Regions from separate parts of the Homo sapiens genome. Here region 1 is linked to region 2. A link means that fine-mapping ties the variant in region 2 to the expression of a gene that starts in the linked region. Tissue or cell type: blood mononuclear cells. Region 2 holds a variant in brackets; the other region holds the start of a gene. All regions are shown on one strand. Distances are from middle to middle.

Region 1 (2,763 bases), 50 kb after region 2:
ACTGAAAGATTAGGTATTTTGCTTTCAATGTTTAGTATCACTACATTGTAATACATTATATTCTAAACGAATCAATTATTGAAACAAAAAATTAATGTTTCAGAAAATATCGTTTACTCTCTTAAATAACTAATGTTAGACTTAAAACTACATTATTTCCTTAAGAAATAGTGGAGCATTTGATGTATACCAAAAAGGAGAGCTTGATAAGAAGATAAGAAAGACAAATTTCATTTGATCCAAACTTATGTTCAAATCTTGGCTTAACTTTTAAAACCAATATTCCCTCTCTTAAAATATGAAGTTATACTTAGTAAGTGAAACCAACTGTCCCAAAGAACTGTCTCTTGTGGCTTAAAACATTCATTTTGGTCTTTTGCTACATTATAGAATAACTAACAAAGAAGAGAACTGTAAGATACATTGATATTGACACTAACTTGAAATAAAACATGTCCAAATTTAGGCAGCATATAAATACACAGCAATAACTTCTGCCTCAGTGATACCAAACGATCTTATAAGATGCAGAGGAAAACAGGCTGACTAATACTCACTGGTTTCCTTCATGGTTGAGGCTATGAAGCTTTCCCCTTTTATGAGAAGATGTTGGAAACACTGTAAGTACAGTAATCTTGAAGCATGCACTTGTAGGAATATGAAGCCTGGCTGCCGTGCCCTCCCTTTTCCTCCCAAAACAAAAACAAAAATGTGATGCACCTGCAAAACTATTGCCGGAACGTTGTAGATATCCACAATACAGGTTGGACTAGACAATGAAACACAGACATTCGGTGGTAGTATCATCTCAAGAACCGACAACAGTTTCAGATAATCTAGCCGAGAAGGAAGTGCCACTATTCCGAGTCAGACCCCACAAAGAGCAAAAAATAGAAGGAAGCAATACCTGATAAAGCAGCGGAGGCGATGATGCTGAAGGATCATTTGTTTAATTTTTGAAAACAAAACAAATTCAAACCTACCCAGTGTGCGTCTAAATTCTTCCGCTTTTCTGGGGCTCCCTTCATATCCAGATGCAGAGGAAGTGTTGCAGTTACCAGGAAGGAAGTTTTAACCAAGTTGATTATACGTGTGATTGCTCATTTTAAAAGTGTCAGAAATGCATTTCCTGTTTTAGCATAGAGAGGGTAGGAGTATGAGACTGAGCAATGTTTACCATGGTTTTTCTTTTCTTTTTTTTTTCTCTTTGAACTAATTTTTCAAAAATTGTGATACTGAGACAAAATGACATAAATCCAAACCAAAATTACCCATTATGAGACATAAACATATGAAATATCTTTGTAGCTAGTTCTAAGAGCCACAGTATTAGGTATCCTATTAGGAAGACTTTTACCAGTCAAATTAAACTCATTCCCCTCCTGGGAATTCAAAAGAATCCTTGTTCGCACATGCTAACTGAGGGGTGGGGGAAGAGAAACCTAGTCATCTTGAGGACTAAGTTATCAAGCTGAAAATTTTTAAAGGCATGGTCTGCAAGCTCACTTCCTTAGCTTGGTGAGAGCTTTCTCTATTTTTTCAGAGCATTTGGGGCCTAAAATATCACTGGCTCAAACTGAAAGCACTGCAGCATGTGCATGTGTGTATATAAATGTGACATACTGCAGTAAGTAACCCTTCAAATAATGGTTGAAATGCTAAAAGTATTAAAATTGAAAGATGAATAAAAAGGTATTTTGATTTTAATACTAAGTACCACTACATTGTAACACATTATATTCCAAACAAGGATCAACTATTGAAACAAAAATTAATGCTTCAGAAAATATCCTGTGTTGAGGATGGAGCCTTACTGTCAGCAATGACTGATTAATTAACTGTAGACAAAACAGAAGGAGGTTGCCTGTTATCATGGGGAAATTGGGGAGCTGAACACTGTTACAGCATCAGGCAGATTCCATCCTGGGAGGTGGCCCCTGATTCCTATGGGAGTAGAGAATGCATAGAAAAGCCATCCTGAATCATTTTTAGAGTAGCGTTGTATCTTCCAGGTGACCTCAGTTCTTTCTAGAACCTCCAAGCATCCTGAACCAGCGCCCCCTCCCTCCATCTCAGAATTCCCTATGCTAGAGTTCATCCTCCAATCGGGGTGTTGAGGGACTCCAGCTGAGCTTCAAGGGCAGCAGATAGAATGGAGTTGACCTCACAAGTCTCTTGGAGGTATGTAATTAAGAGTTCCTCTGAATTACTCTGATATTGAGATAAATGATTGATTTGACTTATTTCCTTTTACATATGCCTCTTGGGTTTTAACTTTTAAATAGCACTCTAATAGTTGACATCAGCAGGCAAATAATTTAATTCAAAGGCTGCCTCCCAAATATTTAGAGGGGTCTTATCAGCTTCTCAAAGTATATTCCTATATAGGAATACTCCCTTAGGAGGCTGGCAGCTTTAGAAGCACCAAGGCTAGCTTTCTTGGTTGGTCCTGAGGGAAGATCAACACACTGTAGCCACCAAGCCATGATGTGAGAGCTTGCCAAGCTGTGTTTTACCCAGAGTGTGTGGGAGGGTTCCTGGGGGTGGGTGGAGTGGGAGGAGGTTTGAGGGTGGGAGGGCTGACCTCAGAGGGACCATGAGCTTGGCCAGCCCTGTTCCCCAGACCATTCAATAGATCCCTTCCCTGTCCTGGCTCAGTCACTTCCAGGGGGCCAAGTCCCAATCTGGCACTGCACATACACACACACATGCCACATTATTCCAGAAACACGAGACTCAGCCTCTTGGCCCTGCCTGCTTCTG
Region 2 (2,763 bases):
TTTCGTAGAGGTTTTGGTGGTACTGAGCCAGTTTCAACCACTGGTTTCAATGCTCTCATCTGTGACTTCACTCCAGCTCTCGGCAACATCTTATTAGCCACCCTAGCCAGTTTTAGCTACCTCTGAGTGATCTGTGGCAGTGTTTGCTAAAATCTAAATGAAGGCAGAAGCAAAAGCATGGCTAACAATCATTCAGGCCTTTTGAGGGCTTCTGCAAGAGCTGTCTGAATGCTGATCCTTTTCTTTCTTTCTAGCTGAGGATGAATGGCTGTTATTGCTATTAAGAGAGTAGCAGCTTTAAGCCTGGGACTGACTTCCCTTAAATGTTTCTTGATAGTTTCCATTTAGCTTGATGCTTGCGATTGAACTTGCTTCTTTGAATAAACTAGAAGTTAGGAGAGGGGAAATGAGAAGAAAAAGTGGGATCATCATTTTACAAAACACAGCTGAGTGGGAGCTCCCCTTCCACCATCATCATCATCATCATCATCATCATCATCATTATCATCATCATCATCATTGCCTGAGTACCTGCTGGGGCACTTGATCTTGCTCCAAGATCTAGGGGGAAAAAAAACAATCTTACATTTTATTTATTTTATTTTTATTTTTGAGATAAAGTCTCACTCTTGTCCCCCAGGCTGGAGTGCAATGGCATGATCTTGGCTCACTGCAACCTCCGCCTCCAGGTTCAATCGATTCTCCTGCCTCAGCCTCCCGAATAGCTGGGATTACAGGCATCTGCCACCAGCCCAGCTAATTTTTTGTGTTTTTTTTTAGTAGAGACGGGGTTTCACTATGTTGGCTAGGCTGGTCTCGAAATCCTGACCTCAGGTGATCTGCCCACCTTGGCCTCCCAAAGTGCTGGGATTACAGGCGTGAGCCACCACGCCCGGCCCAATCTTACATTTTAAAAGTGGGTTTGTCTACATATATGTAACACACCTGTGGACATTTAGTTGTTTCTTTTTACTTATTTGTATTAGTCAGACTTTTGGGTCTGAAAGTTTCTTGACAAGGGGAAACTAGCAAACTTTATACACATGGATTATCCTTAGTTTACTGGCTGCAGGTGCTGTTTACAAGTACTGGTGATGTTTGTGACTTGGCTGTTTTTAGATTTAACTGACACCATCAAGTAACTCCCATGTGCTAGGCGCTATGCTAAGTTCTTACCCATACATTAATGTGTTTGTCTTCTTTAATCTTCATGAAAACTCTGAAATGTATTAGTTA[T/C]CTATTGCCACATAACAAATTATCCCCAAACTTGGTGGCCTAAAACCACAGTATTTATTATCTCATAGTTTCCATAGGTCAGGAATCCAGGGATGGCTTAGCAGGATGATATAGCTCTGGGTCTCTCCCAAGGCTTGACTTGAAAGGATACCCACCCCGACTCACCAGTGCGGGTGCTGGCAGAATTCTATTCCTCACGAGCTGTTGGCTGGAGACCTCCCTGGGTTCCTTGCCACATAGATCTTTCTACAGAGCATCTCACTACATGGCAAGGGCCTCCATCAAGCTGAGCAGGTTCAAAAGAGAGCTAGAGAATGCCTGCAAGGTGAAAGTGACAGGCTTTTTATAACCTAATCTTGGAAGTGAAATTGTACCGCCTTTGTCATGTTTTATTTGTTAGAAGCAAGTTGACAGGTCCAGTTCATACTCAAAGGAAGGGGATCACGCAAAGGCATGAGAACCAGGAGGCTAAGATCATGAGGACCATATTAGGGGTCTACCTCCCACAGAGCTAGGTATTATCAGGCCTCTTTTATGGCTGAGAAAATTGAGGCACCATTTGAAAAAAGAGATTGATGATGCATGTATGTGTGTAGTTCATCATGTATGATGACAATTCATGTCTCTGAGAAGTATTGCGCAACACAGATTGGTACATATTTTCAGCCCTCTTGTTGATTTGACTTTCCTCATTCACTGAATCTGCCTCTATGTCCTACAGAGCCTTGCTATGCAAAGTGTGGCCTGGGGACTGCCAGCATTGGCTTCACCTGGGAGCTTGTTGGAAATGCAGAACCTAAGAGCCCACCCTAGACCTGTGGAATCAGAGTCTGCAACCCCAGGTGATACATGTACATGGTGAAGTTTGAGAAACTGCTCCACAAGTTCTCTTTAAGGTTCTCTGCTGACTTCAAGTGTTCCTGTGCTCTTCTGTCTGCTGGCCCTGTGAGGGGATTTTTTTTTTTTAGCAGTAGTGAAGAATGTGTTCTATTCCTACACTATTTTAAAACCAGAGCAGAGCCAGGCATTGTGGCTCATGCCTGTAATCCCAGCACTTTGAGAGGCCAAGGTGAAAGGATCGCTTGAGCCCAGGAGTTTGAGACCAGCCTGGACAACACAGTGAGACCTCATCTCTACAAAACATAAAAAAATTAGCCGAGTGTGGTGGTGCATGCTTCTGTCCCAACTACTTGGGAGGCTGAGGTGGGAGGACTGCTTGAGCCCAGGCAGTCAAGACTGCAGTGAGCCATGATCATACTACTGCACTCCAGCCTGGGTTGGAGCAAGACCCTATCTCAAACCAAACCAAACCAAACCAAACCAAATCCGAGAAAATAAAGCCTCTGAAATGAAAGCTTCTTATCACCTACTATTAATATCTTGTATAAATAGCAACAAGGTAATGTAATAATAATGAGGTCTCTTAATACTCTAAAATGGAGCAGGAGCCACTGGTACGGATAATCATACACAGCAGACAATTAAAAATGAAACTTGGCATTTGGCTCTAGAATGAACTGCAGCAAA

Evidence for each region. PIP is the estimated chance that this variant, and not a neighbour inherited with it, causes the effect.
Region 1: PIK3CG starts here. The variant in region 2 is fine-mapped to the expression of PIK3CG in blood mononuclear cells (TOPMed, PIP above 0.99).

What each region holds. Positions count from the first base shown.
Region 1 is chr7:106,863,571-106,866,333 of GRCh38, reverse strand. It overlaps PIK3CG (phosphatidylinositol-4,5-bisphosphate 3-kinase catalytic subunit gamma), which reads right to left and starts at 1,052. Exons shown (of 11, transcript NM_001282426.2): 1 at 908-1,052. RefSeq lists an enhancer at 881-980.
Region 2 is chr7:106,913,329-106,916,091 of GRCh38, reverse strand. No RefSeq gene overlaps it. Among named protein-coding and RNA genes, the nearest start is that of PIK3CG, 49 kb to the right of the region's middle. The variant T/C (reference allele first, on the strand shown) is at 1,237.